2 separate regions of the Homo sapiens genome follow, and region 2 is linked to region 1. Evidence: fine-mapped expression QTL. A gene starts in region 1. The other region holds a variant in brackets. All regions are shown on one strand. Distances are from middle to middle. Region 1 holds the start of ZNF641 (zinc finger protein 641). Region 2 has its middle 58 kb from the start of H1-7.

Region 1 (2,919 bases):
TCTCTTCTCTGAATTCCAGCTCTGTATCCACTTTTAACACACAGGGCACTAATTCTCCCTCTTCGTCCCATCTTTCTGGTTCTCTAGCTCCTGTGCAAATCCTCCCTGAAGGCTTTACCTCTAGCTACATATCTGGACACTTGTCTCAAACCCTTTCTCCATCTCCCCCAGGTAGCAGAGTCTCTTAATGGGAAGCCTCTTTGTGCAGAGCCCATTGGGCCAGCTGTAAGTTTTTCTATACCACTGACAGAAATCCGTGGAAGTGCTAGCAAAAATCTCAGCAAAGGATGGGATGGGTACCTGTCCTCAGCTTGCATTTCCTAAGATATTCACGCAGAGCCAGCACCTGGGCGGTTAAGGTGGTAGCCCTAACCTCGTTTCTCCTGGTTCCAGGATGATCCCATGCCCACTGCAGTGTGGGTTCTAGGGCTTTCATTTCCCCCTTTTCTTCACACATATGGGTAGCAAGGGACCTGCAAAAGGAAGTTTCTGCAGCCAGTGCTGATGAACAGAAAAGGGGCCATGTTATAAAAATGAGTAGCCCAAGGGCACACGGACGAGTTGGCTCCGTCCATCAGAGAACCCTGGCCCCTGCCACGGGTAGGGCATGGGCGGGACGGGAGCCTGCTCAGGGGTAAGGTTGCTTCTTCCCTTCTTCTTGTCACAGTGCCCCTGGAAAGGGTCAGATTTCAGAGAATCCGAGCAAGGCAGAACTGGAGCAGGGGAAGTGAGGTCAGAAAACAGGTTTCCCATGAGCTGGGGCATGAGCAAGTGAAGAGAAAGGGAGCCACGGGGTAACCTGTGCGCGAGTGACAGCGGCGGGAGCCCGCAGGGCCTGACAGTTGCGATGGGCACGGGGAGACAGGGCGAGAGGCGGGCACAGAATGTCAGCGGGGCAGACCCCCGGGAAAGGCAGCAACCCGGAAGACGCGCCGATCCTCCTCCCAGCCCCTATGGGTGACCGAGCCCCCACCAGCCGCCCCGGGAAGCCAGGCGTCCCTCCCTCCAGCCGCAGCTCCCTCCGGCCCGGCTCCACTCACCCCCGGTAGGCTTGGCCCGCGGCCCGGTGCCTCCCTCCCGGGCGCCGCCTGCCCCTCCCCTCCGCCCTCCGCTTGCGTCTGGGAGCCGGCGGCCGGCGGAGCCAGCGACAGGCGGAGACGGCGGCCCGGCAGGCGCGGGCGGGGCGGGGCGGGCACAGGAAATCCCCGCCCGCTTCCGGGGCTCTGCGGCGGCGGAGGTGCGGGGAGTGGGAGGGAGAGGAGTGGGAGGGAGAGGAGTGGGAGGGAGGGAGGGAGGGAGGGACGGGAGGGGGCGGGGCTGCGGCTCAGGCGCCCCCAAACGCGAACCCGGGACCTCCGCGCCCGCCGCTGTGGGGAGGGTGCGGCCCGAGACGCTTGGAGGGCGGCGGGCGCCGGAATCGCAGCCTGCTGTGGCCACTTGCCCGCACTCTTGCCTGACTGACCATTTTCCGCTCTGGCTACTGGGCCTCCCACGGAGTTCTGTCCTCAGGGTTCGTCAATTACCTGGAATTGCGTAACCGCCCGTTACAGGCCAGACCGAGGCCGAGAGCGATTTCTCCAGACAACAGTCTGGAATTCCTCAAGGAGCGTACCCTCTAGTTTTCACGATAGGATAAAGGGCTTGAGAGAGCACTGAGGAGGAGTCACTTATTCTGCCTGAGGGGAAGTCAGGTTGCTATCTGAAGTTGGCCTTGCGGCTGCTGTCCCATTTGCGGGAGCCGTAGCCGCAGGTGACACCTGAGCTCTCGAAATGTGGCTGGTCTGAATAGAGATGTGTTCCAAGATTTAGAAGATTTAATTTAAAAAGTGATATTTTGGGTATATTGGGTTAAATATATTAAAATTAATTTCACCTGGTTTTAACTTTTTAAATGTGGCTATAAATATGGCTTGCATTATATTTCTATTGGATAGTGCTACCTTGCAGCATTAAGATGGATTTGACTAGAAAAGATGAGAAGGGCCTACAAACAGTGAGTAAACCCATTGCTGTTAGAATCTGTTTATAACCTACAAGTCACATTCACATTCCTTATTTCATCATTACAACAATTTTCAAAAATTTTATTTAGTAGACTTAAAAAATAATTGACTCACTTAAGGTCATATGTGACAATCATTCGTTTAATGCATATTTATTTTCTACGTGTGCCAGACACTGTAACTAAATGCTGGGAGTTAAAGGATTCACAGTCTGGGGAAGCACATGTCAACAAATATTTGCAATAAAAACGTAGATTCTAAAACAGAGGAACGTACGCTGCACTTGAAGCAAAGAGAAGTGACCACGTATGGGACGGAGGTCAGAGAAGGCCCCCCACTCTGACAGAAATCGTGAGGCAGAGAAGAGTCAGGAGGGCTGTCTAATGAAAGAGGAAAATGCAGTAGACACGCAGTTGGGAAGAGTATAGAGCATATTCTAGGAGCAGATCATGGGATATGTCGGGGTAGTAGTAGAGCCAGAATTTTTATCCCGGGTCCTGGAACTAAGTCCAGGGGTTCTTTTCACTTATGCTACCACTGGTGGTAAATATAAGGTGCGTTAATTGGAGTAGGCTAGCAAAACCAGTATCTCGGGGCTTAACTCCATAAAGGCTTATGTTCATACAAGTCACAGTGTGGTAACAAGTTGGTTGGGGCCAGAGGGTGGGGTCTGTACTTCTTGAATTCATTGAAGGACCAGGCTTCTTGCATTTGGTGGTTCTCCCATGCCGAGGCCTTGGTAATGTAGTCAAATCTGTGGCCCTCAGATAAGGGAGGCTGGCCGTGGTTAACTTGTCAGAGATATTAGGGGCCAGTCCTGGAAGTGGTGTGTATCATTTTCACCCCATTCCCTTAGCCAGAACTCATGCGCATGGTCACATGGCCCTACCCAGAAGGGTGGCTGGGAAGTAAAGAA
Region 2 (2,919 bases), 80 kb before region 1:
TACTGAATGACATCTTGGTTGCTTCCAAGTTTGGATAGTTGTGAAAAAAAGCTGCTATAAACATTTGTGTGCAGTTTTCATCTCATTCAGTAGATACCAAGGACTGTGACTGCTGGATCATATGGTAAGAGCATGTTTAGTTTTGTAAGAAATTGCCAAACTGGATTCCAAAATGGTTGTACAATTTTGCATTCCCATCAGCCATAAATGAGACTTCTCATTGCTCCACATCCTTGCTAGCATTTGTGTTGCCAATATTTGGGATTTTAGCCATCCTAATAGGTATGCAGTTGTATCACACTGATGTTTTAATTTGCAATTCCCTAATGATAGATGATTGAACATCTTTTCATACACACATTTTCCATTTGCATGTCTTCTTTGGTGAGGAGTCTGCTCAGATTTTTGTCCACTGTTTGATTAGGTTGTTGTTTTCTTATTGTTGAGTTATAAACATTTTTGTATATTTTGGACACCAGTCCCATAACAGATACATGTTTTGCAAATATTTTCTTGCAGTCTATGGCTGGTTTTATTCTCTGAGCATTGGCTTTCACAAAAGCACAAGTTTTTAATTTTAGTGAAATACAACTTAGCTTTTTCTTTTATGCATCATGCTGTTGGTGGTGTTATCTAAAAAGTCATTGTCAAAGCTAAGGTCACCTAGATTTTCTTCTATATTATTTCTAGTATTTTTATAGTTTTTAATTTTATATTTAGGTCTATAATGTATTTGAGTTAATTGTTGTGAAAGGTGTAAAATCTATGTGTAGATTCATTTCTTTGCATGTGGATGTCTAATTTTTTTCAGCACTATTTGTTGAAAAGAATATCCTTTCTTTGTTTAATTGCCTTTGCTCCTTTGTCAAAGATCAATTGACTATATTTGTATGGGTTTATGTCTGGGCTCACTATTCCATTCCATTAGCCTATTTCTTTCTTTCTTTTTTTTGCCAATACCACACTTCTAATTATTATAGTTTTATATTAAGTCTTTTTTTTTTTAAGTTCCAGGGTACATGTGCAGGATGTGCAGGTTTGTTACATAGGTAAATAAACATGTGCCATGGTGGTCTGCTGCACCTATCAACCCATCAGGTAGGTATTAAGCCCCACATGCTTTAGCTCTTTTCCCTAATGCTCTCCCCCTATATTGAGCTTTGAAGCTGGGGAGTGTCAGTTCTCCAATTTTGTTCTCCTTCAATATTGTGTTGGCTATTTTGGGTCTTTTGCCTTTCTGTATAAACTGAAGAATCCGTTTTTTATACTTGCAAAATAACCTGCTGTGTTCTTTTTTTCAAAATTGTTTTGGATACTTTAGTTCATTTGCATTGCCAAATACATTTTAGAATTCGTTTTCTGATTTCTAC[G/C]AAAATTTGTCTAGTATCTTTATGGAGATTGTTTTGAATCTATATATCAGTGAGGGAGAAAGGATATTTTAACAATATTTAGTTTTCCAATTCATGAACACAATATATCTTTTCACTTATTTATGTCTCCTTTGATTTCTTTTTTTCTTTGTAGTTTTTATCATAAAGGTATTGTAGATGTCTTGTTAGACACAATTTTGGACATTGACGTTGCTGAACTGACTTATTTTGCAGATTCTCTGTCAACAACCATGTCATCTGTGAATAGAGACAGCTTTCATTATGTCTTTCTCTCTCTCTCTTTTTTTTTTTTTTTTTTTTTCTGAAACGGAGTCTCGCACTGTCGCCTGGTCTGGAGCGCAGTGGCGCTATCTCGGCTCACTTCAATCTCCGCCTCCCAGGCTCAAGCGGTTCTCCTGCCTCAGCCTCCCGAGTACCTGGGATTACAGGTGCCCGCCACTACACCTGGCTAATTTTTTGTATTTTTAGTAGAGAGGGGTTTCTCTATGTTGGCCAGGCTGGTCTCAAACTCCTGACCTTGTGATCCACCTGCCTCGGCCTCCCAAAGTGCTGGGATTATAGGCGTGAGCCACTGCGCGCGGCCTCATTTATTTCTCTCTAATCTGTATCCCTTTTCTTCCTCCCTCTGCCCACCTTCTCTCTTTGTCACTCATTTCTTTCTTTTCTTTTTATTCCTTTTTTTCTTTTGGCATTATTTTACAGGCTAGACCTTCTGTATAATGTTGAATAAGAGTGGTGATAACAGATATTTTTGCCTTTTCTCAGTCTTAGGATAAAAAGATTTGGTCCATCATTATTAAATACACTATTTTAAGGTACTCTTAGAATATCTACTACTGCAGATTTTTTAAGGTATTCTTTTTCAGTTCAGAAAGGTTTCCTTCTATACATAGTTTCCAAGAGGTTTGGTAATAAATGGGTGTGGAATTTTTCTGCCTACTTTTGTATTTAACTTTTTTTTTTTTTTTGAGTCAAAGTCTCGCTCTGTTGCTCAGGCTGGAGTGCAGTGGCGCGATCTCGGCTCACTGCAAGCTCCGCCTCCCGGGTTCAGGCCATTCTCCTGTCTCCTGCCTCAGCCTCCCGAGTAGCTGGGACTACTGGCGCCTGCCACCACGCCCGGCTAATTTTTTGTATTTTTAATAGAGACAGGGTTTCACCATGTTAGCCAGGATGGTCTTAATCTCCTGACCTCCTGATCCGCCTGCCTTGGCCTCCCAAAGTGCTGGGATTATAGGCGTGAGCCACCACGACCAGCCGTATTAAACTTTTTTAAATGATTTCATTTTATCTTCACTATTGGCTTATCATTTATACATCTTTACAGTTTTTAAGTGGCTGCCCTAGAATTTTTTTTATTATTATTATACTTTAAGTTCTAGGGTACATGAGCAGAACGTGCAGTTTTGTTACATGGGTATACATGTTCTGTTTATGTGATGGATTATGGTTATTGATTTGCATATGTTGAACCAGCCTTGCATCCCAGGAATGAAGGTGACTTGACCGTGGTGGATAAGCTTTATGATGT

The links.
Region 2: its variant is fine-mapped to the expression of ZNF641 in whole blood (INTERVAL, PIP above 0.99).

Annotation. Positions count from the first base shown.
Region 1 is chr12:48,349,746-48,352,664 of GRCh38, forward strand. ZNF641 (zinc finger protein 641) reads right to left here and starts at 1,174. Exons shown (of 6, transcript NM_001172681.2): 1 at 1,041-1,174. RefSeq lists enhancers at 685-754, 1,193-1,929 and silencers at 895-1,324, 1,605-1,684.
Region 2 is chr12:48,269,572-48,272,490 of GRCh38, forward strand. No RefSeq gene overlaps it. Among named protein-coding and RNA genes, the nearest start is that of H1-7, 58 kb to the right of the region's middle. The variant G/C (reference allele first, on the strand shown) is at 1,371.